Regions from separate parts of the Homo sapiens genome. Here all the other regions are linked to region 1. Evidence: fine-mapped expression QTL. A gene starts in region 1. Each other region holds a variant in brackets. All regions are shown on one strand. Distances are from middle to middle.

The links. PIP is the estimated chance that this variant, and not a neighbour inherited with it, causes the effect.
Region 2: its variant is the best candidate, but not a certain one, in a credible set for the expression of TUBD1 in lung (TOPMed, PIP 0.76).
Region 3: its variant is the best candidate, but not a certain one, in a credible set for the expression of TUBD1 in skeletal muscle (FUSION, PIP 0.67).

Annotation. Positions count from the first base shown.
Region 1 is chr17:59,888,028-59,896,554 of GRCh38, forward strand. TUBD1 (tubulin delta 1) reads right to left here and starts at 4,916. Exons shown (of 9, transcript NM_016261.4): 1 at 4,670-4,916; 2 at 2,804-3,014. The coding sequence starts at 2,975. RPS6KB1 (ribosomal protein S6 kinase B1) reads left to right here and starts at 5,094. Exons shown (of 15, transcript NM_003161.4): 1 at 5,094-5,298. The coding sequence starts at 5,158. RefSeq lists an enhancer at 4,842-5,121 and a silencer at 5,312-5,511.
Region 2 is chr17:59,757,063-59,765,589 of GRCh38, forward strand. VMP1 (vacuole membrane protein 1) reads left to right here. Exons shown (of 12, transcript NM_030938.5): 6 at 7,909-8,076. Among named protein-coding and RNA genes, the nearest start is that of VMP1, 54 kb to the left of the region's middle. The variant C/T (reference allele first, on the strand shown) is at 3,458.
Region 3 is chr17:59,359,690-59,364,689 of GRCh38, forward strand. All of the region lies in intron 2 of YPEL2 (yippee like 2), which reads left to right. Among named protein-coding and RNA genes, the nearest start is that of MIR4729, 3.9 kb to the right of the region's middle. The variant G/A (reference allele first, on the strand shown) is at 2,980.

The DNA.
Region 1 (8,527 bases):
GGGTTCACGCCATTCTCCTGCCTCAGCATCCCAAGTAGCTGGGACTACAGGCACCCGCCACCACGCCTGGCTAATTTTTTTGTATTTTTAGTAGAGACGGGATTTTACTGTGTTAGCCAGGATGGTCTCGATCTCCTGACCTCATGATTCGCCCGCCTCGACCTCCCAAAGTGCTGGGATTATAGGCATGAGCCACTGCACCCGGCCGATGTCTTTTTAAACACAGCAGTACGGAGGATGGATGTGATAGACAGTAGACTCCAGGCAAGGAATCCTAAAAGGAGTGTCTTGAGACAGTCCAGGTAAGAAAGAACAAAAGCCAGACTAAAGCAAGTCAGTGAAGGTGGAAAGGGAAGAACAGTTTCAAGGAGTATATAGGAGGTCAAATAAGCAGATCTTGTTTGATGGTATGTATGCAGCAAGAGCACAAGGAACAATAATGAATGCCTTGGGAATAGAGATGTTGAGTTTCAGGTTCATATGAGAGATGTGGGTGGAGATATCCACTAATCTGTCTAGAGCTTTTAAGAGAGGCTGGGCTAGAGGTCTGAAAGTCACAGGTGTAATAAATGTAGCAAACTATGACAGTGAAGTTGCCCAGAGAGAACTATGCAAGTGAGGACAGGGGAGATGCAACAACTGGAGAAGAAAAGTGGGGTGACTAGGAGAAGGAGGTTCAAGGAGAGAGTTGTTTTTTGTCTTTTTTTTTTCTTTTTTGAGACGGAGTTTCGCTCTTGTCACCTAGGCTGGAGTACAATGGCACACTCTCCGACTCCCGGGTTCAAGCGATTCTCCTGCCTCAGCCTCCCAAGTAGCTGGGATTACAGGCACGCACCACTACGCTCGGCTAATTTTTGTATTTTTAGTACAGATGGGGTTTCACCACGTTGGCCAGGCTGGTCTCGAACTCCTGACCTCAGGTGATTCACCCACCTCGGCCTCCCAAAGTGTTGGGATTACAGGGATGAGCCACCATGCCTGGCTTTTTTTTTTTTTTTTTTTTTTTGAGACGGCATCTCGCTCTATTTCCCAGGCTGGAGTGCAGTGGCGAGATCTCGGCTCACTGCAACCCCCCTCCCGGGTTCAAGTGATTCTCCTGCCTCACCCTCCCGAATAACTGGGATTACAGGTATGTGCCACCATGTCCGGCTAATTTTTGTATTTTTAGTCGAGACGGGGTTTTACCCTGTTGGCCAGGCTGGTCTCTAACTCCTGACCTCAAGTGATCTGCCTGCCTTGGCCTCCCAAAGTGCTGGGATTATAGGCGTGAGCCACTGCGCCCTGCTGGAAAGAGTTTTTATACGTTACTGTTATCAAACGCAGTAGAGGAGTAAAGTGAATTAAGAAAAGAAAGAGAGGCTGGGCACAGTGGCTCACGCCTGTAATCCCAGCACTTTGGGAAGCTGAGGTGGGCAGATCATTTGAGGTCAGGAGTTCGAGACCAGCCTGACCAACATGGTAAAACCCCATCTCTACTAAAAATACAAAAAAATTAGTTGGGCGTGGTGGCGCATGCCTGTAGTCCCAGCTACTCATGAGGCTGAGGCAGGAGAATTGCTTCAACCTGGTAGTCGGAGGTTGCAGTGAGCCAAGATCGCACCACTGCACTCCAGTCTGGGTGACAGAGCTAGACTCTGTCTCAAAAAAAAAAAAAAAAAAAGAAAAAGAAAAAGAAAGAGAGCCTGTAATCCCATCACTTTGGGAGGCCAAGGCAGGCGGATCACTTGAGATCAGGCATTCGAGACCAGCCTGGCCAACATGGCAAAACCCTGTCTCTACTAAAAATACAAAAATTAGCCAGACATGGTCGTGGGCACCTGTAATTCCAGCTACTTGGGAGGCTGAGGCAGGAGAATTGCTTGAACACGGGAGGTGGAGGTTACAGTGAGCCAAGATCACATCACTGCACTTCAGCCCGGGTGACAGAGCGAGACTCTCTCAAAAAAAAAAAAAAAAAAAAGAGAGACAGAGAAAAGAAAGAGCCAGGCATGGTGGCATGCACCTGCAGTCCCAGCTACTCAGGAGACCTGTGAATAGCCACCGCACTCCAGCTTGGGCAACATAGTGTAGTAAGAACCTGTCTCTACAAGAAAAAGAAAAAAAGAAAAGAAAAACAGTAGTTGGATCTGGTGATTCGGAGGTCACTGGAAACTTTTCTTAGAGCAGCTTCAATGATGCTATGTGGGGCAGAAGCAGGATCATAGGTGGTTAAGCAGGGTCCTTTTATTTTTTTTGGAGATGGAGTCTCGCTCTGTCACCAGGCTGGAGGGCAGTGGTGCGGTCTCGGCTCACTGCAACCTCTGCCTCCTGGGTTCAAGTGATTCTCCTGCCTCAGCCTCCCGAGTAGCTGGGATTACAGGCACATGCCACCACGCCCAGCTAATTTTTGTATTTTTAGTAGAGATGGGGTTTCACCATGTTGGTCAGGCTGGTCTTGAACTCCTGACCTTGTGATCCACTCGCCTCGGCCTCTCAAAGTGCTGGGATTACAGGCGTGAGCCACCACGCCCAGCCAGCAGGGTCCTCTTTTGAGAATCTTAGATGAAAGGCAAAGAGATAAGAAGAAGAAAGCCAGTCAATAGATGAGTTTTGTTTGGTTGGTTTTAAATTGGTGAGATCTGAGCATGCAGAAGGGAAAATGCCACTGGAAAAGCAAAGATTATTAACATAGAAATGAAAAGCAAAAACAAAGTAATTCCCTAGTGAGATGGGAAGGAATGGGGTTTAAAAACCATGTGGAAGGCCTGGCTTTGAAGGGGTTGGTTAGATCAGAGTAAAGGAGAGGACTGTGGGCCACACCTACCTCCATTCTCCTCCTCACTGAAGAATCTTTCTTTGCAAGATGCTTGATATGCCTCATTCTCTCTCATAGAGCAGAGTCCCTGGGAACTGTGTGAGTCACTAAGCAAAGCATCAAAAACTTCAAAACCAATCTGATTGCCACACTGACCAAGTTGCACTGTTACAATTGACATGCTGAGCCACAAACTAGGTGTATTACCTCTAAAAACAACCTGTAATCGAAAAAAATACGCTTTGAGAACCACTACATTACTAATAAGAACAAATAAAATGCCATGTATGTTAATTATACATCAATAAAAAGTCTTTTTTCCCCCCTGAGACGGAGTCTTGTTCTGTCACCCAGGCTAGAGTGCAGTGGCATGTTCTCGGCTTAATGCAACCTCCGCCTCCCAGGTTCAAGCGATTCTCCTGCCTCAGCCTCCCGAGTAGCTGGGATTACAGGCACGTGCCACCACGCCTGGCTAATTTTTGTATTCTTAGTAGAGATGGGGTTTCACCATGTTGGCCAGGTTGGTCTTGAACTCTTGACCTCGTGATCCACCTCCACCTACCTCAGCCTCCCAAAGTGCTGGGATTACAGGCTTGAGCCACCACGCCCGGCCCAAAAAGTCATTTTAAAATGCCACATACGTATATAATATTGGAGATAGAACAGCTGTGTTGTCTAAGGAGCTAGTCATTCAAGGAAGTTCTCATACTCTCTACATGGTTTTGGGATTTGTGATTTACTGTACCTGAATCCATTCATACACAGCTCAATAGTTTCCAAAATCTGATTTGTAATCACTTTTTTCCTAAACATATGTTTAAAACAAAACATTCTCCTCAGTTGAGGAGTGATAAAAGAAAAAAAGAGGCTGGGTGCGTGGCTCACACCTGTAATCCCAGCATTTTGGGAGGCTGAGTTGGGAGAATCACGTGAGCCTGGCTGTTCCAGACCTGGTCAACATGGCAAAACCCTGTTTGTACAAAAAATACAACCATTAGCTTGGCGTGGTGGTGTGCGCCTGCAGTCCCAGCTACTCGGGAGGCTGAGGTGGGAGGATCCCCTGAGCCTGGGAGGTCCAGGCTGCAGTGAGCCAAGATCTTGCCACCGCACTCCAGCCTGGGTGACAAAGTGACATCCTCCTGTCTCCAGAAAAAAAAAAAATTAAAATTAAAAAAATAAAAACAAGACAAAACAAATGCTGATTGAAGAAATTAGTAGTACCACCCTTCACACCACATGAACATGTAGAACACAGAAGTGTGCTCAACATTGTACATTCAATTAACATTAATTTTCTCTCTTCTAAATAATAGCTTACGCTTTCTCCACTAGTCTAGCCTGGTAACTTTAGTAAGACCTGTAAGAAAGATTTTGTGTTTAGCTCAGGTAGGACAGCAAGAAAGATGCAGCTTGGAGAAAGAAAACCAGATGAAATATTAACCGGGCGCAATGGCTCATGCCTGTAATCCCAGTACTTTGGGAGGCCGAGGCGGGAGGATCACCTGAGCCCAGGGATTCCAGACCAGCCTGGGCAACACAGCGAGACCCTGTCTCCATTTGAAAAAGAAAGAAAGCAAAAGAAACATTAGAGCAGTTCCTCATTATTTTTACCTAGGAAAAGACAAGTTTTGATAAAGACTTCACATCAGGTCTATGCAGCACTGGAAATGAGCCGTGGGTTGTGAGACAGACTCTGTGCTTAAAATGTCAAACCGGCAAAGTAGGTTTATTATTATCCTCATTTTACAGATAAGGAAACTGAGGCTCTGAAAGGTTATTGACTTTTCCAAGGCCACAGAACTAGTAAAGAGCAAAGCCAAAAGGTCCCCCGTTCCCCACGGGCCCCAGGAGTTCTCCACACGTAACCCGACTCACCGCCAGACGCCGACCAGCGCTTCTGTCCGGTTCAAACTTCGGACCAACCTACTCACCATGCGCATGCTCACTTTCAAAACGAAAAACTTACTGAGAACAAATGCGCATGTTCCATAAACGGAGAGTTTTGTTGTGTATATATTTTTTCCTATTCAGAAAGATTAATTACGCATGTTCAATTTCAATTTACGAACTTCAGATATGGTACGCATGCTCACTGTCCACCGAACGCTCCAGCTGACAATGCGCATGCTCTAGTCCTCCAAGCGCGACTTCGGCTGGTGTTTTGCGCATGTTTCTGCCAGCGCCTGGATCCTGCCGATAGTTCTGCGCATGTCCACTGCCCACTGTTTGGCTTCACGGAACCCTGTACGCATGCTCCTACGCTGAACTTTAGGAGCCAGTCTAAGGCCTAGGCGCAGACGCACTGAGCCTAAGCAGCCGGTGATGGCGGCAGCGGCTGTGGTGGCTGCGGCGGGTCCGGGCCCATGAGGCGACGAAGGAGGCGGGACGGCTTTTACCCAGCCCCGGACTTCCGAGACAGGGAAGCTGAGGACATGGCAGGAGTGTTTGACATAGACCTGGACCAGCCAGAGGACGCGGGCTCTGAGGATGAGCTGGAGGAGGGGGTGAGGCCCGGGGTCCCCGGGGGCCCGAGGTGACAGGGCCGGGGCGGCGGCGCGGGCTCAGGAAGCGCGGTGTGTCCTAGAGCGTGGAGACCCAGGGGGGCTCCTGAGGAGCTGAGGGTCGCGCGGCCTGAGACAGGGGAGCGGGCGGGGCGGTCATGGCCCTAGGTGTGAGGCCTCTGCGGGGCTCGCAGGTGCAGGTCGCACCCTTAGCCCCAGGTCAGCGCAGCCCCGAGCGATCTGAAGAGGGAAAGAGAACGGGCGCGTGGTCGATTCCTCGAGCTGTTGGACTTGAGTGTGGCGGGGAGCGGGTGGCGTGAGCGTGTGTTGGGGAGACGGGGGCTGCTCTTGCTGGGTGTCCCGTAAGTGCAGGCGAAGTGTGGAGGGTTTCCCTTCGAGTCTAGAATTTCAAGTATTGAATCTTCAGACCTCCCACAACCACCTCTCTTCTCGGCCTGTCGCTTCTCTCCTAGGAAGCGCTCAGCTGTTAGAAGTGACAGCTGAAAACTTCTGTCGGGAGTAGCACTGCCGCTGCTGTTACAGCCACCAGGAGTTTTATTTCGGGAGCAAGGGGGCTCTGCTGCATCTTCCAATCTTCCAGGGTTTGTTTGTTTGCTTTTTTTTTTTTACCCCCTTCCGTGTGACTTTTTAAAATAAGCATTTATAAGGACACACGGCACTTGTAACCTTTCCCCAAGTTGAAGATGTCTGTATTTTTTTCAGAATAATTAATGTAATTTTGAGGTGGAAAAAAAAACCAAAAACCAGTTGACAGCCTTGATTTAGCTTGCCAGAAATAAGTTGCCTGAACAGAGACTTGTGAATGGTGGTATGAGGGCTTTCCTTGCTGTAATTTAGGGTGCTAAATTTAGAATTGTATTTCCTAATGCATAGCTTGGTTTCACCCTGCTGGCTTAGTGGTTTGTTAATCTTTATGGAATAACTTTTTTTTTCCCTAGATAAATTTATCAAAAAATGACAAATTGCACCTGAAGTTCAAAAATGTTGTCATACTAAATCACTGATCCTGGACCAAATGATCATCAGTTGATAACCTCTTGGTAGTTTAGCATCTAAATTCCAATGTCTAGTTGAATACATGGGTTAATGACGTCAGATGTTTGCTCTAATTACACAGGGGCTTCCTTTCCCTTGCCTCACCCTCAGTTTTTCTCCTCTGGCACCTGCCCTACTGTTGACAAAAGATTGAGATGATGTATATAAAGAATTTTGAACACTTTAAGAAACTAAGTGGCCTAAAATAATACTGTTCTTCTTGTTTGTTTCTTTTGTTTTGTTTTGAGTTGGGTCTCACTCTATCACCCAGACTGGAGTGCAATGGTGCGATCTCAGCTCACTGCAATCTCAGCCTCCTGGGTTTAAGCGATTGTCATGGCTCAGCCTCCCAAGTAGCTAGGATTACAGGCATGCGCCACCACATCTGGCTAATTTTTGTATTTTTAGTAGAGACAGGGTTTCACCATATTGGCCAGGCTGTTCTCGGACTCCTGACCTCAAATGATCCACCAGCCTCGGCCTCCCAAAATGCTGGGATTATAGGCATAAACCACCATACCTGACCAATACTGTTCTTTTCATAATCAAATAAGACTAAATCAAAATCACACGGTTTAGAAAGTGGGTATTGAGTTGTGTGCTTTTTCTTTTCTTTTCTTTTCTTTTCTTTCTTTCTGGTTTTTTTGTTTTGTTTTGTTTTTGAGACAGTCTTGCTCTGTCACCCAGGCTGGAATGCAGTGGCGTGATCTCAGCTCACTGCAACCTCTGCCTCCTGGGTTCAAGCGATTCTCCTGCCTCAGCCTCCTGAGTAGCTGGGACTACAGGCGCGTGCCACCACACCTGGCTAATTTTTTGTATTTTTAGTAGAGATGGAGTTTCACTGTGTTAGCCAGGATGGTCACGATCTCTTGACCTCGTAATCTGCCCGCCTCGGCCTCCCAAAGTGCTAGGATTACAGGTGTGAGCCACTGCGCCTGGCTTTTTTTTTTTTTTTTTTTTTGAGACAGGGTCTTCCTCTGTCACCCAGGCTGGAGTGCAGTGGTGCGATCTCGGCTCACTGCAGCCTCTGCCTCCCAGGTTCAAGCGATTCTCCTACCTCAGCCTCCCAAGTAGCTGGGATTACAGGGGCGCGCCACATCACCTGGCTACTTTTTTTGTATTTTAGTAGAGATGGGGTTTCACCATGTGGCCCAGGCTGGTCTTGAACATCTGACCTCAGGTGATCACCTGCCTCAGTCTCCCAAAGTGCTGGGATTACAGGTGTGAGCCACCCCACCAGGCTTTTTACTTTATTTTATTTTAATTTTTTTTGAGATGGAGTCTCACTGTGTAGCCCAAGCTGGAATGCAGTGGCCTGATCTCGGCTCACTGCAGCCTCCGCCTCCTGAGCTCAAGCGATTCTCGTGCCTCAGCCTTCCGAGTAGCTGGGACTACAGGCGCGCACCACCATGCCTGGCTAATTGTTTGTATTTTAGTAGAGATGGGGTTTCACCATGTTGCCCAGGGTGGGCCTGAACTCCTGAGCTCCAGCAATCTGCCAGCCTTGGCCTCTCAAAGTGCTGGGATTACAGGCGTGAGCCACTGCATCCGGTTGGTGTGTGCTTTTTCAATGATGTTTTCATGCAGAATTCCAATTAGCCTCTTAATCGAACATAATGGTACACTAGTTACAATTGGAAACAAATATGAGATTACTTTCATTATTTATACCATATACCATACTCTTTATCAGTTATGTTGGTTCTCTATGACAGTGGCTTTGGAGCAGGGCAGGGGAGAAAACTGGATAGGAAGGTGCTTTATATCTTCATTAGTTGAACTGATAGAATTTCCAGACTGGGTTTATTTTATTTTATTTTTTTTTCTTTTCTGAGACAGAGTCTTGCTCTATTTGCCCAGGCTGGAGTGCAATGGCGCTATCTCGGCTCACTGCAGCCTCCACTTCCCGGGTTCAAGCGATTCTCCTGCCTCAGCCTCCCGAGTAGCTGGGATTACAGGCACCCGCCACCAGGCCCGGCTAATTTTTGTATTTTTAGTAGAGACGGGGTTTCTCCATGTTGGTCAGGCTGGTCCGGAACTTCCAAACTTGGGTGATCTGCCTGCCTTGGCCTCTCAAAATACAGGTGTGAGCCACCGCACCCAGCCAGGTTTATTCTTTTTTGAAAGTACAGTACTCTGTTAAAATTCCTGTGTAAACTGGGACTTTTCTTTTCAC
Region 2 (8,527 bases), 130 kb before region 1:
TTATCATTTTACTAATATGATTTTTTCACAAATTCAAGTATGAATATATTCACCCCTTTCTTACTATGACCCTAATTAGTGTTTGTGGCACAAGGATTTCTTTCTCTGGGCTTAACATAGATACTATATTATTATCAGAAAACTACTTAAAACTCTTCACTACCAGATTAGGATGGAGATAGATAGATAGATAGATAGATAGATAGATAGATAGATAGATAGATAGATAGATGTGGTTTTGTATAATTTTACCCTTCTAGGACAATTTTTTTTGAATTCTAAGTTTCTCTTAATTAGAAGAACTAGTAGTGTATTGTTATTCTTAAAGCTAGAGTAAAAATTGATTACATAGAATTAGTTTGGTTTTTTTCTAATCACTAAAACTTTTCTAATCACTAAAACTCATGAAAGAATGTAAATCATGGAAATGTAACTTTTTAAACTTATGTAAAAAGAGTTTTTAAAAGATAAAATATCTTTTTCCACAGACAAGTACCTACATCTGCTCTTACTAGAAATCTTACCCTTTCATCTAAGTATAGTTTGCTCTCACCCAGACATACTCCTGCCTGGCCAAGCACTACATCTTTTATCCTGGACAAGGCAAAATTATTCCATTACCAATCTTTGGAAAATATAATGTAATACAGCTCATGAGACTAGATATATGGAACTCTGAAATGAAGCAAATCCAGATGTCCAATATGTTGCAAATAACCAAGCTATCTTGTTGATTTAACTTCGTCTAGAATAACTATACTGAGTTACCAAAAATAAAACAGACCTTTATTTGCCACTTTTTTTTTTTTTTTTTTTTTTTTTAAGACAGGGTCTCATTCTGTCACAGTGGCGTGATCTCAGCTCACAGCAACCTTGAACTCCCAGGCTCAAGCAATCCTTCCACTTCACTGGGACTACAGGTGCACACCACCATACCCAGCTAATTTTTTGTTTTGTTTTGAGAGAGAGGGTCTCTCCATGTTACCCAGGCTGGTCTCAAAACTCCTGGGCTCCAGTGAGTGTCCCGCCTCAGCCTCCCAAAGTGCTGAGAATACAGACATGAGCCACCCTGCCTTGCCTATTTGCCACTTTAAGATGTACTCCCTGTATTGATCTTTACCTTGCCACATGTCACATCCTTTTAAATGTGTTCACACTCATTTTATAGCACAGCAGATGGTCTGTCTTGGCAAATATTCCATGTGTACTTGAAAATAATATATATTTGGCTCTTGCTGGGTGGTATTTTCTATGTTATTCAAATCTTCTGTGTCCATACAATTATCAGTGTAGTTGTTCTATCAATTAATGAAATATAGATGTTGACGTTTTCAACTATGTATGTGCCAGGCATGGTGGCTCACCTCTAATCCCAGTACTTTGGGAGGCCAAGGCAGGAGGATCCCTTGAACTGAGTTTGAGACCAGCCTGGACAACATAGGCAGACCCTGTCTCTACAAAAAATAGAAAAATTAGATGGGGCCAGGTGTGGTGGCTCACACCAGTAATCCCAGCACTTTGGGAGGCCTTGTTGGGAGAATCTCTTGAGCCCAGGAGTTTGAGACTAGCCTGGGCAACATAGGGGGACCCATCTCTAAAAATAACAAAAAAAAAATTATCTGGGCCAGGTGCGCCGGCTCACACCTGTAATGCCAGCACTTTGGGAGGTGTTGGTAGGAGGATCCCCTGAGCCTAGGAGTTTAAGCAACACAGGGAGACCTGTCTACAAATAATGAAAAAAAATTAGCTGGGCTGGGCACTCTGGCTTACACCTGTAATCCCAGCACTTTGAGAGACTGAGGTGGGTAGATCACTTGAGCCCAAGAGTTAGAGACCAGCCTGGGCAACAGGCAAAACCCCACCTCTACAAAAAATTAGCCAGGCGTGGTGGTGTACACCTGTAGTCCCAGCTACCCAGGAGGCTGAGGTGGGAAGATCACCAGAACTCTAGAGGTTGAGGCTGCAGTGAGCCAAGATCTTGCCACTGCACTCCAGTTTGGGTGATGGAATGAGAGACCCTGTCTCAACAACAACAACAACAAAATTAGTTGGTTGTGGTATCTTGCGCCAGCAGTCCCAGTTGGGTGGATCACCTGAGGTCAGGAGTTCAAAACCAGCCTGACCAACATGGTGAAACCACATCTCTACCAAAAATACAAAAATTAGCTGGGTGTGGTGGCGGGTGCCTGTAACCCCAGCTACTTGGGAGGCTGAGGCAGGAGAATTGCTTGAACCCCAGAGGCGAAGGTTGCAGTGAGCCAGGATCGTGCCATTGCACTCCAGCCTGGGCAACAGAGTGAGACTCTGTCTCAAAAAAAATAAAATAAAGAAATTTCTAGCTATAATTGGGGATTTGTTCATTTCTGTGTTCTGTCAGTTTTTGCTTTATGTATTTTCACACTCTGTTATTGGTTGTATACACATTTAGAATTGGTCTGACTTCCTGAGAATTAGACCTTTTATCATTTGTTCCTATGAATCTCTGTTAATATTCTTTGTCATTAAATCTACTTTGTCTAATATCAATTTAGCTACTTTATCTTTTTTATGGATTTTTTAAATGGTTTTTCTTTTCCCATTTCTTTACTCTTTCTTTTCTGGGTTCTTAATATTTAAAGTGGGTTTCTTATAGACAGCGTGTACTAATCCAGTGTGACAGTGTCTGCCTGAATTTATACATTTGGTCCATTTGCAATTAATGTAGTTATCAATATGATTGGGTTTAAGTCTACCCTCAAACTGTTTGTCATATCTAATTTTTCATTCCTTTTTCTTTTTTCTCTGCCTTCTTTTGGACTGAGGATTTTTTTGTTTTGTTTTGTTTTGTTTTGTTTTTTGGTGTTTTTTTTTTTTTTTTTTTTGGTATTGAATTTATTTGCTTGTTTGTTCTACTTCTTTTAAAATTTTTAGTGGTATAGCTAGGTGTAGTGATGCATGCCTGTGGTCCCAGCTACTCGGGAGGCTGAGGTAGAATCTCATGAGCCTGGGCAGTCAAGACTCCACTGAGCTGTGATCACACTACTGCCCTCCAGCCTGGGCAACAGGGTAGGACCCTTTCTCAAAAAAAAAAAAGAAAAAAAAAATTAGTGGTTGTCCTAAGGTTTGCAATATGCTCCATTAACTTACAGGGTGAACAATGAAGTATTGTTTTCTCATTTTGTATAAAATATAACAACCTTATAATAGTGTTCTTCATTTCCTCCTCCCATAATTTATAATTTATGCTTTAGTTGTCATACATTTTACTTCTTGTATATTTTACTTCCTCATATGTCGTAAATCCACAGTACTGTTTTGAAATATATTTTTTTGAAATATATTTTCCCTAGCTCCCAGATTCACAGGTATTTTTTTCTTTGACATTTTAAAGAAGTAATTCTGATGTCCTGTGGTTTGCATTATTTCTGATGAAAAGTCTGACCTATTTTTCCCTGTAGATGTTTTATTTTTATCTACT[C/T]TATTGTTTTTAAGACTTTTCCTCTTGTCATTGAATTATAGCAATTTCATTATGACATGATTGTGATGATTTTTAGCAGTTTGATTATGTTTTATTTTCTATTTTCTTTTTTCTTTTTTTGAGATGGCATCTTGCTCTGACGTCAGGCTGGAGTGCAGTGGCGCAATCTCGGCTCACTGCAATCTCCGCCTCCCGGATTCAAGCCATTCCCCTGCCTCAGCCTCCCGAGTAGCTGGGATTACAGGTGCGCACCACCATACCCAGCTAATTTTTGTATTTTTAGTAGGGATGGGGTTTCACCATGTTAGCCAGGATGGTCTCAATCTCCTGACCTCATGATCCACCCACCTTGGCCTCCCAAAGCGCTGGGATTACAGGCGTGAGCCACCATGCCCGGCCTATATGTTTTCTTTTCTTTTCTTTTTTGTGCTGGCATGCAGTGTTGAGATCTCAGCTCACCGCACCCTCTGCCTCCTGGGTTCAAGCGATTCTCCTGCCCCAGCCTCCCCAGTAGCTGGGATTATAGGCACTTGCCACCATGCCCGGCTAATTTTTTGTATTTTTAGTAGAGACAGGTTTCACCATGTTGGCCAGGCTAGTCTCGAACTCCTGACCTCATGATCCACCCACCTTGGCCTCCCAAAGTGCTGGGATTACAGGCGTGAGCCACCGCACCCAGCCCATGTGTTTTATTTTCTTTGTGTCGATCCTGACTGGATTTGTTCAGTTTCTTAAGTCTGTGGATTGATACTTTTCATCAAATCTGGGTCTGTTTCTATTGAGCAATATTTCTTTTGGTTATGAGTTATAATTTGCTGCTTCGCATATCTAGTAATATTATATTGAGTGCTAGTAATTTTTAATTGAATGCTAGATATGTAGTATTAAATTGTTGATTGTATGGATTTTGTCTTCCACTATAGAACATTGATGTGGGGGGAGGGTGAAGGGGACAATTAAGTTACCTGTGGATCAGCTTGATCTTTTTAAGACTTGTTTTAAACCCTGTTAGGGTCAGACTAGAGTAGCTTTCACCTTAGGACCAGAAGGAAAGGTCGTACCTACCCAGGCATGACCTTTCTGGGTTGAATGCTGAGTCTCTCTACTCTAGCTGGTTGATCACAAATGTTTCCCAGGCCTGTGTGAACTCTGGGAATTGGTCAGTTTACAAATCCCCAGTAATTATTCTTTTCCCAGTAGTTCTTGTAGTTCTTTGCCTGGACTTGTGGTCTCACCTTAGCATGCAATGCAGCTTTGTGTGCCAGAGTCTGAAGGGGACCCCTGTGCAGATTTCTAGAGTTCCTTCTCTGTGTAGCTTTCTCTTTTCTGGTATACTGCCTCATAAATTCTGACTGCCTCAGCCTTCTTGAATCCTGAACTCGTGAACCCCAATCTCATTCTCAACTCGGCAGGAGCAACATGCTTTGTTTGGGCTCTTGCTCTTTTGACCATGGAATTTTTGGCAGGCATGGAATGTGTCTACAGACAAGAAGCCAGAGTCAATGTATGGTTTCTTCATTTTTATCCCTTCTCTTAGTAATCAAAGCCCTGTACTGCCTGTAGTACAATGTCTAAAAAGAATTGTCCCATATATTTTGTCCAGTTTTCTAATTGTTTGCTATAGAAATGAAAGTCTAGTATCCGTTACTTCATCCGCCGTGAGACAGAAAACCTTCAGCCATAGACCAGGATCCCTAACCCATGCTCCCACAAGAGTTGGAACCTGCTGCTCAGTAAATATATAAATTTTATATCCTGTGGCAGGTTTTATCCAGTTAGGCTTTTCAATTAATACTATAGCTGTTTGGGTCTTTACCCTCTTGTTTCTTTGTTTAGTATGGTTAAAAATGTGACTCATATTTGCTACATTGTAGTGAGACTTGTAGTTTTTAGAAAATATACTTTAAAAGTAGTTTGAATTATGTGTAACTTTTAAAACTTTTAATCAAAAATTTTTTTATTTGAATTTTTCATATAAACATATTTTTTCATTCAAATCGGTTATATTTAAAAACCATTAAGCTAAAATGTTGAATAGAACTTGTGAGGTTTCCTATCACTTAATATAGTTTAAACTATGAACAAAGGACAAGAAACTGAGTTGTTAATGTTCATTTTGTCTGGGAACCACCACATCTGCCTCAAAGGCTGAGTAATCATGACTTACTAGTGTGGTTATGGAAAATATATGTCAGTTTAGTTGAGTGAATGAACAGACTTCTTTAGAAGAAAGAATTCTCAAATCAGAGACTTGAAAAAACATTCTCAAATCAGATTGTTGAAAATTTCCCTTTTCAGAATAACTAAAAATGAAAACTATAAAGAACTTTTATTTTATTGGATAATGTGTTTAATCTGTTAGGATACATTTTTTATATTTCTGGAATGCAAATATAGCTTTTTCTTTCCTATCTATCCCAGAAATCTCATTATTTTAGCTCCCAGAGCAATTTATTTTTGTTCACTTGAAATTCATTTCTAACTTTAGCTGTAGACTACCTGTAGCCAAAGAGGACAGTAACATGGGGACAGCATGGACAAACTCTTAAATTTTCTTCTTTTTCACTTATTGGCATTCATATGTCTCTTTTGTGTTTTCTAATAGTAAAGGTGGAAGTTACAGCTGATTTCTTCTTTTTTTTTTAATTATGTCTGATAGCTATAATTGTATGAGGAGAAATGTTTCACAAACTATGCAGTTATTCTGAATATCACAAACTTTGGGGTTTTTTTGTAGTATCACAAAATAATTCTTTTTTCCCCCAAGTGTGAAATCTCTTGTGTGCACCTGGCATTTAAAGAAATGATTGTAGATTTCATGGTTAATCATAAGTTTTCAAAAACCTAAGTAGTCAAAGTATTTTCAAAATCTTATATAATTATTTTAATACTTTAATATTTCTGCATTTCCAAGAATTAAAAGTCCCCAAAAAGAGGAACAAAGGCTAAAACTTCACATCGATTTTTTTGATCCAGAAAAAACTAATAATTAACTGATTCAGTTCCAAGGATTTCATTTTTTAGGTATTATTTTAACAGAAAATGCCGATTCTATTTAGAGATAAATATCACATATGTGTGAACAACTTTGTATATTAACATCAAACAAAATTTTATTATCTTGATAGTAGAATGTCTTAGTTTTATTTTTATCACTAGATTTTATGTACTTTGAACCACAGATTCTTTCATCAAGTGATCTTAAAATACTTTCTTATACACAGAGCCCACTTACTTTTCTGTGGGACTGTCTCATTTATGAAAAATCATTGGAGAAATCTTTAATAGAAACCTTCAGATTCAGAAATACTTGCACAATATAATTAGTAATAAAATCTCGTGTATATATATGTAAATAATTTTATTCTACAAATAAAGTATTTATCTTCATAATAGCTGATGGCTGCTAGTTACTGTATGCTAGAGGACATCTATCAACCTATGCTTAAGGGACCCAGGAATTTATATTTTAACCAACTCCCTAGTATGCAGACACCTCATCTTGTGCTTTTAGGAACCATTGTGTAAAACTCATTGATACTGGTTTCACAGTTACATTTTTGCTTTATGATCTCACTGGGAAAGGTTACATGAGGTGGTAGATCACCAGCTGTTTTTAAGTAAGGACGTAAAGTGATATTCTCAAATTGTGCCTAAAAGAACAGTGGCTCAGGAAGTTTTTTTTAATAAAAGGAATTATCTAACAAATGAGAAATATAGATAAATAAAATAAAAGTCAAGCAAGGAATTAGATCAGTGGTTGCCGGGGACTAGGACTTGAGGGAGGGAATTGGCCACAGAGGAACACAAGGGATTTTTTTTTATAAGGGATGGGGCCTTGTTCCGTTGTCCAGACTGGAGTGCAGTGGCACAATCATAGCCCACTACAGCCTCCAACACCTGGGCTCAAGCAATGCCTCCTACCTCCTGAGTAGCTGGGACTACAGGCACATGCCACAATGCATGGCTAATTTTTTAAATTTTTGTAGAGATGAGGTCTTGCTTTGTAGCCCAGGCTGGTCTTGAACTCCTGGCTTCAAGCAGTCATCCTGGCTCAGCCGCCCAAAGTGGTGGGAATACAGGCATGAGCTGCTGTGCCTGGCCAAGGGATCATTTTTGCAGTAATGGAAATGTTCTGTATCTTGATTGGTGTGGTTATATGGCTGAATATGTTCGTCAAAGCTAATTGAAATGTAGACCTCAAATAAGTGACTCATTATGTGTAAATTTTACCTCAATAAATCTGATTTTTTTTTAAGTCAACCAGGAAGAGATTCTGGGAAGGATTATTTTCTTCATATTACTAACTGCATCTTGAAATTATTTAGAATTATTTTTGTTCTTTGAAAGCTAAGATTTTTCTTACACAGTAATTAATATATTTTTAAAATAATGTGTATTGATAATTTTTTAATAGTTCTTATCAGAAGTTTCTTGTATTTGTTTTATAGGGTCCACATATAGCCTCAGTTACATTAGCTGCTTATGAATGCAATTCAGTTAATTTTCCCGAACCACCCTATCCTGATCAGATTATTTGTCCAGATGAAGAGGGCACTGAAGGAACCATTTCTTTGTGGAGTATCATCTCAAAAGTTAGGATTGAAGCCTGCATGTGGGTAAGATATGCATTTTCATATTTGTTTAAAACTAACCTCACCATCTTGATAGTGTGTGTACCTTATTGAAATGGAATCTAAACATATTCCTTGTCAGTAAATGATTCAGTCAGTAACCAGCTACCTACTTCCAAGGCAAAAGAAACCTTTTAGAGCATCTCCTATTCATGAATGGCATTGAGAAGAAAGGCATGAACCATATGTATCACAAAGCAACTGAGGCCAAGTAGACTCCAGCAGGGCAAGGGAGTACAGATGATGGAACCACAGTTGAGCCTTGAACCATGTGTGGGTTAGGGGTGCCAACCCCCTGTGCAGTAGGAAATCCACATATAACTTTTGACTCCCCAAAAACTTAACTGCTAATAGCCTACTGTTGAACGGAAGCCTTAATGATAAATAGTAGATTAACACATATTTTGTATGTGTTAATACAGTATTGTATACCATA
Region 3 (5,000 bases), 530 kb before region 1:
AAATTCGAGTATGTTTTAAGAGGAGGGAAAAATCAGATTGCAGGCATAAATGTCTATCTCAAAAAGTAAACCTTTTGTTTCTAGAATAGTGGGACCTGGCTCTTTGCCAGAGCAGTGGTACTAAGAAACAGAAGGGTGGGAACAACTGCTCTGTATGGCCTGAGCTCTAGTGGGTGCCTCTGCCACTTTGCTGTTGAATGTCAGTGTTTCTTTTTTATTTATTTTTTTGAGACGGAGTCTCACTCTGTTGCCCAGGCTGGAGTGCAGTGGTGCGATCTCGGCTCACTGCAACCTCCGCCTCCTGAGTTCAAGAGACTCTCCTGCCTCAGCCTTCTGAGTAGCTGGGATTACAGGCATGCGCCACCACACCCAGGTAATTTTTAAATTTTATTTATTTATTTTTTTGAGACGGAATCTTGCACTGTTGCCCAGGCTGGAGTGCAGTGGCACGATCTTGGCTCACTGCAAGCTCCGCTTCCCGGGTTCACGCCATTCTCCTGCCTCAGCCTCCCGAGTAGCTGGGACTACAGGCACCCGCCACCACGCCCGGCTAATTTTTTGTACTTTTTTAGTAGAGACGGGTTTCACCGTGTTGGCCAGGATGGTCTTGAACCCCTGACTTCAAGTTATCTGCCTGCCTCGGCCTCCCAGAGTGCTGGGATTACAGACGTGAGCCACTGCGCCCGGCCGTGTTAGTGATTCTTAGACATCACTTCTAAGCTACAGCCAAGGCAGAAGTGACAAATTAGGGAAGAGTTCCAGCACAACCCAATAAGTCCAGTTGCAAGACATGCTCTACCAAGTTGGCTTTTATAAAGAGAATCACATTTCCCAACCCCAAATTACTTAATTATTTTCTTCAACTATGTGACCTTTGAAAGCTCTGTCTCCTACTAATGAAGCATTGGCTCTTTTGTACTCCTCTAGAAGTATCTGTTGACCACCCAGGAAGGGGTGGCAGGTGAATCAAATCTGTACAGAAAGTCTCCAAACAAAGGGATGTGGTTACTTTACAGTGTTTCTTGGTGAAAAGAAACTATTTGGGGCTCGTGTAAAGTATATAGTATCTTATGGTACCTTTCCTCCATAGGGGCAGAGATTGAACCCGTTCAGGATGAAAAGAGCCATGAATTAGGCTGGGATTTTTTTTCTCTTTTTTTGATATAAAGTCTCACTCTGTCACCCAGGCTGGAGTGCAGTGGTGCAATCTTGGCTCACTGCAATCTCTGCCTCCCGGGTTCAAGCAATTCTCGTGCCTCAGCCACCTGAGTAACTGGGATTACAGGTGTGCATCACCATGCCCAGATAATTTTTGTATTTTTAGTAGAGATGAGGTTTCACTGTGTTGGCCAGCCTGGTCTCGACCTCCTGACCTCAAGCAATCCACCTGCCTCTGCCTGCCAAAGTGCTGGGATTACAGATGTGAGCCACCGCACGCAGCTTGGGATAATTTGTATAGCACGGTTGGTCCACAGTGGGACCATTTTAACTATATCTGAAGAGTTTCTGGTGTATGTGGGTGACGGCAGTGGGGACTGTGCCTATACTTGCTCTTATCATCTTATTGATTCCATTCTGTCTTTGCACAAATACTAATTACGTACTCTGTGTGTGTGTGCGCGTGCATGCACATAGCACTATTCTAGATATTATAATACTACTCAAAAATTTTGTCAGGGAACTTTTATCCTAGTTTGGGAGATAATAGATTCATGTTATGCCTTCTTGAAGTTTCTACTTCATCTTATGTTTCTCTTAAAGCAGTTATCACAGTGTGATGACGCATGTTTCCCATTAGCCTGTGAATTACTTGAGGAGATGATTGTGACATCGTTTTTGTGTCTCTAGCAGCAGCACAGCTCCTAAGACTGGTAGATTCTCAGTGAATATTTGAGTGAATGACTTATTACTCAGATAGAGATCTTTATCAGTGAGTTTCAATCTGGGTCCGTGGACTGGCTTCAAGGACTCCATGAAATTGCATGTGTCATTCTGTGGGCATGTATATTTTTCTAGAGAGGGTTTCATGGCTTTCATCAGGCTCTCCACCAAAGATACTGTTGGTTAAAAAAGGAAAAAAACACACACACAACCAAACTTTAAGATCCATCTTTCTAGAAAATGCAGTTCTGGGAAGACTTGGTGGAAGAAGTGGCATTGAAGTGTGCCTGGAAGCAGAAGCCTCAAATGATGGGGAGGAGCTGGTAAAAGGAGCATCAGGAACAAAGAGCCAGAGGCAGGGAGCACACAGGGAGCAGCCGTTCTTTGGGGTAGAGGTTGAAAAACTGTGAAAACATTAAAGGTGTAGGTAGAAGCCAGATTATTAGAAGAATAGAAGCTAGGATGTTGTCCCATTGACAGTTGGTTGCTACTGAAGACTTTTAAGCAAGTAATGACATGACCAGCAAATGGTTAGTGCTGCTGTGGTGTGGTAGATGAACTAGTGAGGAAGAGACTAGAATGGGGCAAGTGGTGTCTGTCCATTGCAGTGGTCCGAATGTGTTCCAGGTACATGGTGGTCATTCAGCAAATACTCATTGACCACTGCTTGGCAAAGAAATAGAAGCATTCTATGGTTTTTTTTTTTTTTTAATTGTGTTTATCATGTGTAGGCATGGACAAGGGGAATTGGGTTCAGGAAGTCACATGCTTTAAATGGGAGGCAGACCTGTCGCACAGTCACGCCTGCTCCCTGTGAAAATTAATGATCTGGGCACACATAGAGTTGCTCACCAATTTAGTATCAAGGGAGCTGCTGGGACCAAATCTGGTGAATCATCTTTATGTTTTGTTTTTCTTTTGCTGCAGACTGCAGGCAGCTGGAGCACAAAATCTGCTCAAATGTGATTCTTTCTGTGTGGTTACTTTAAATACCAAAAGGAAATGTTGACTTGAGCGATGAGGCGTACCCTGAAAATTAACTCTGTGGTTTGCAGATGCCTTTAAGGTTCCAATCATAAGACTGGTTTGTATATTAGC[G/A]TCTAGGCTCTCAGCAGGGACACTGGTAATCAAGCTTGTGTTCCCAGTCAGAAATCCAAAGAAACTCTTTTTCATCAGGGTGTTCAACCTGGGAAGCAAGGAGTGGGTGCAGGATCCCTCTGTTTCTGTTTGAGCAGTGGCACTCCCTCTGGCCTCTGGAATGGTAAATCTGCACCATTGCTAGCTTGGCTGTTTGCGTTTGGGGGCTGACTAGAATCCACTGTCATACACTACTTGTTCAGTTCAATATTTCTTGTGCTTTAAACAACATTTAAACCTAGATGGTAGGGATAAGATGATTCCTGCACTTAAAGAGCCTGTGATGTTTAGGAAACAAGGGAATGCAAGGCTCACCATGGAGGGTAGAAGAATGTTACAGATAAGGTTGTTTGGTGTTGTAACAAACACACAAGATGGAAAATCTATGTTGCTGCTATTAGCTACTATTGATTGAACACCTTCTTAGTTTCTATGTATATATAGATATATATATAGAGAGAGAGAGAGACAGGGTCTCGCTATGTTGCCTAGACTGGTCTCAAACTCCTGACCTCAAGCAGACTTCCCACCTCAGCATCCCAAAGTGTTGGGATTACAGGTGAGCCACCACACTGGTCCTAAAGACTTACCCTTTTTTTTTTTCTTTTTTTTTTTTTTGAGATGGAGTCCCACTCCGTTGCCCAAGCTGCAGTGCAGTGGCGTGATCTCTGCTCACTGCAGCCTCCGCCTTTTGGGTTCGAGCAATTCTCCTGCCTCAGCCTCCCAAGTAGCTGGGATTACAGGCATCCGCCACCAGGCCCGGCTAATTTTTGTATTTTTAGTAAAGGTGTGGTTTCACCATGTTGGCCAGGCTGCTCTCGAACTCCTGACCTGACCTCAAGTGATCCACCTGCCTCAGCCTCCCAAAATGCTGGGATTACAGGCATGAGCCGCCGCACCCAGCTGAACACTTTCCTCTTTATTGAGCACCTACTGTGTGCCAGGAACTCCTTTAGGTATTTTACTTACTCCATCACTTATTTTACAACATCCTTTCAATGTGGGGATTAAGGCCATAGGTTACCAGGTTACCAAGAAGCCAGATGGGTTCAGATTCAGATCTGCTCATGTACTTTTTGCTACCGCTTCGCAGTGTGGCCTAGGTTCTTTTGGCCTTGCCTATTTTATGGTCTTACTCAGTAATCCTTGTGGCAAATCCCACCCTTTCTTCCCTCCTGTCATTTCCTTTGCCTTGGTGAATCCTTCTCCTTTCCTCTCTCTCTATTCAGTTCCTACCCATTCTTGAAGACCAGTTCACATCTTTTTTTCTTCTAGTGAGTCTTCCTGGCTTATAGGATGCTCTGAATGTCTGTAGAACTCACTCTCTGGTTGTTCATTTGGAAATTAATGACTGTCTTGTGGTATGGTCTGTGTTGTTATGGTTGCGTGCACTTTTTATGTATAATTGTCTTGCTTCCTAACAAGATTCTCAATGTCCTGGAGTCATAGATGCTCAGAACTTTGTGGCTGGAGGTACCTTTGAACCTGGAGTTTCTAGTTCAACTCCTCATTTTACAGATTAGGAAACCAAGGCCCAGAGAGAAACTGAGGGCCTCTTGATTTTGCACTTTGCCACCTCCCCCGACACACCACTTTGCACATAGCTGGTGCACATAGCCCTGGGAGAGGGCTGGCATCTGGAAGATTGACAGTGTCAAGCGCTGTGATCTTGGGCAAGACTGTTCATCTCTCTGGCTCTCCCTTTTCTTCATTTATCCAAATGAGTGCAATAGGTTAGACTGTCTTTAAAGTTCCTTCTACTTCCCCCCTGCGTCTTCTGAGTCTAATGTAGTAGCATAAGATGATATGAGGCCATATAACATAGCAGCTCGTGGTATAACTCCGAGCCCAACCACCTGGCTTATTCATTTAGTAGCTGTGTACATTAAGTAATCCCTCTGTGTCTTTTTTTTTTTTTTTTTTTTTTTGAGACAGAGTCTCGCTCTATCACCCAGGCTGGAGTGCAATGGCACGATCTTAGC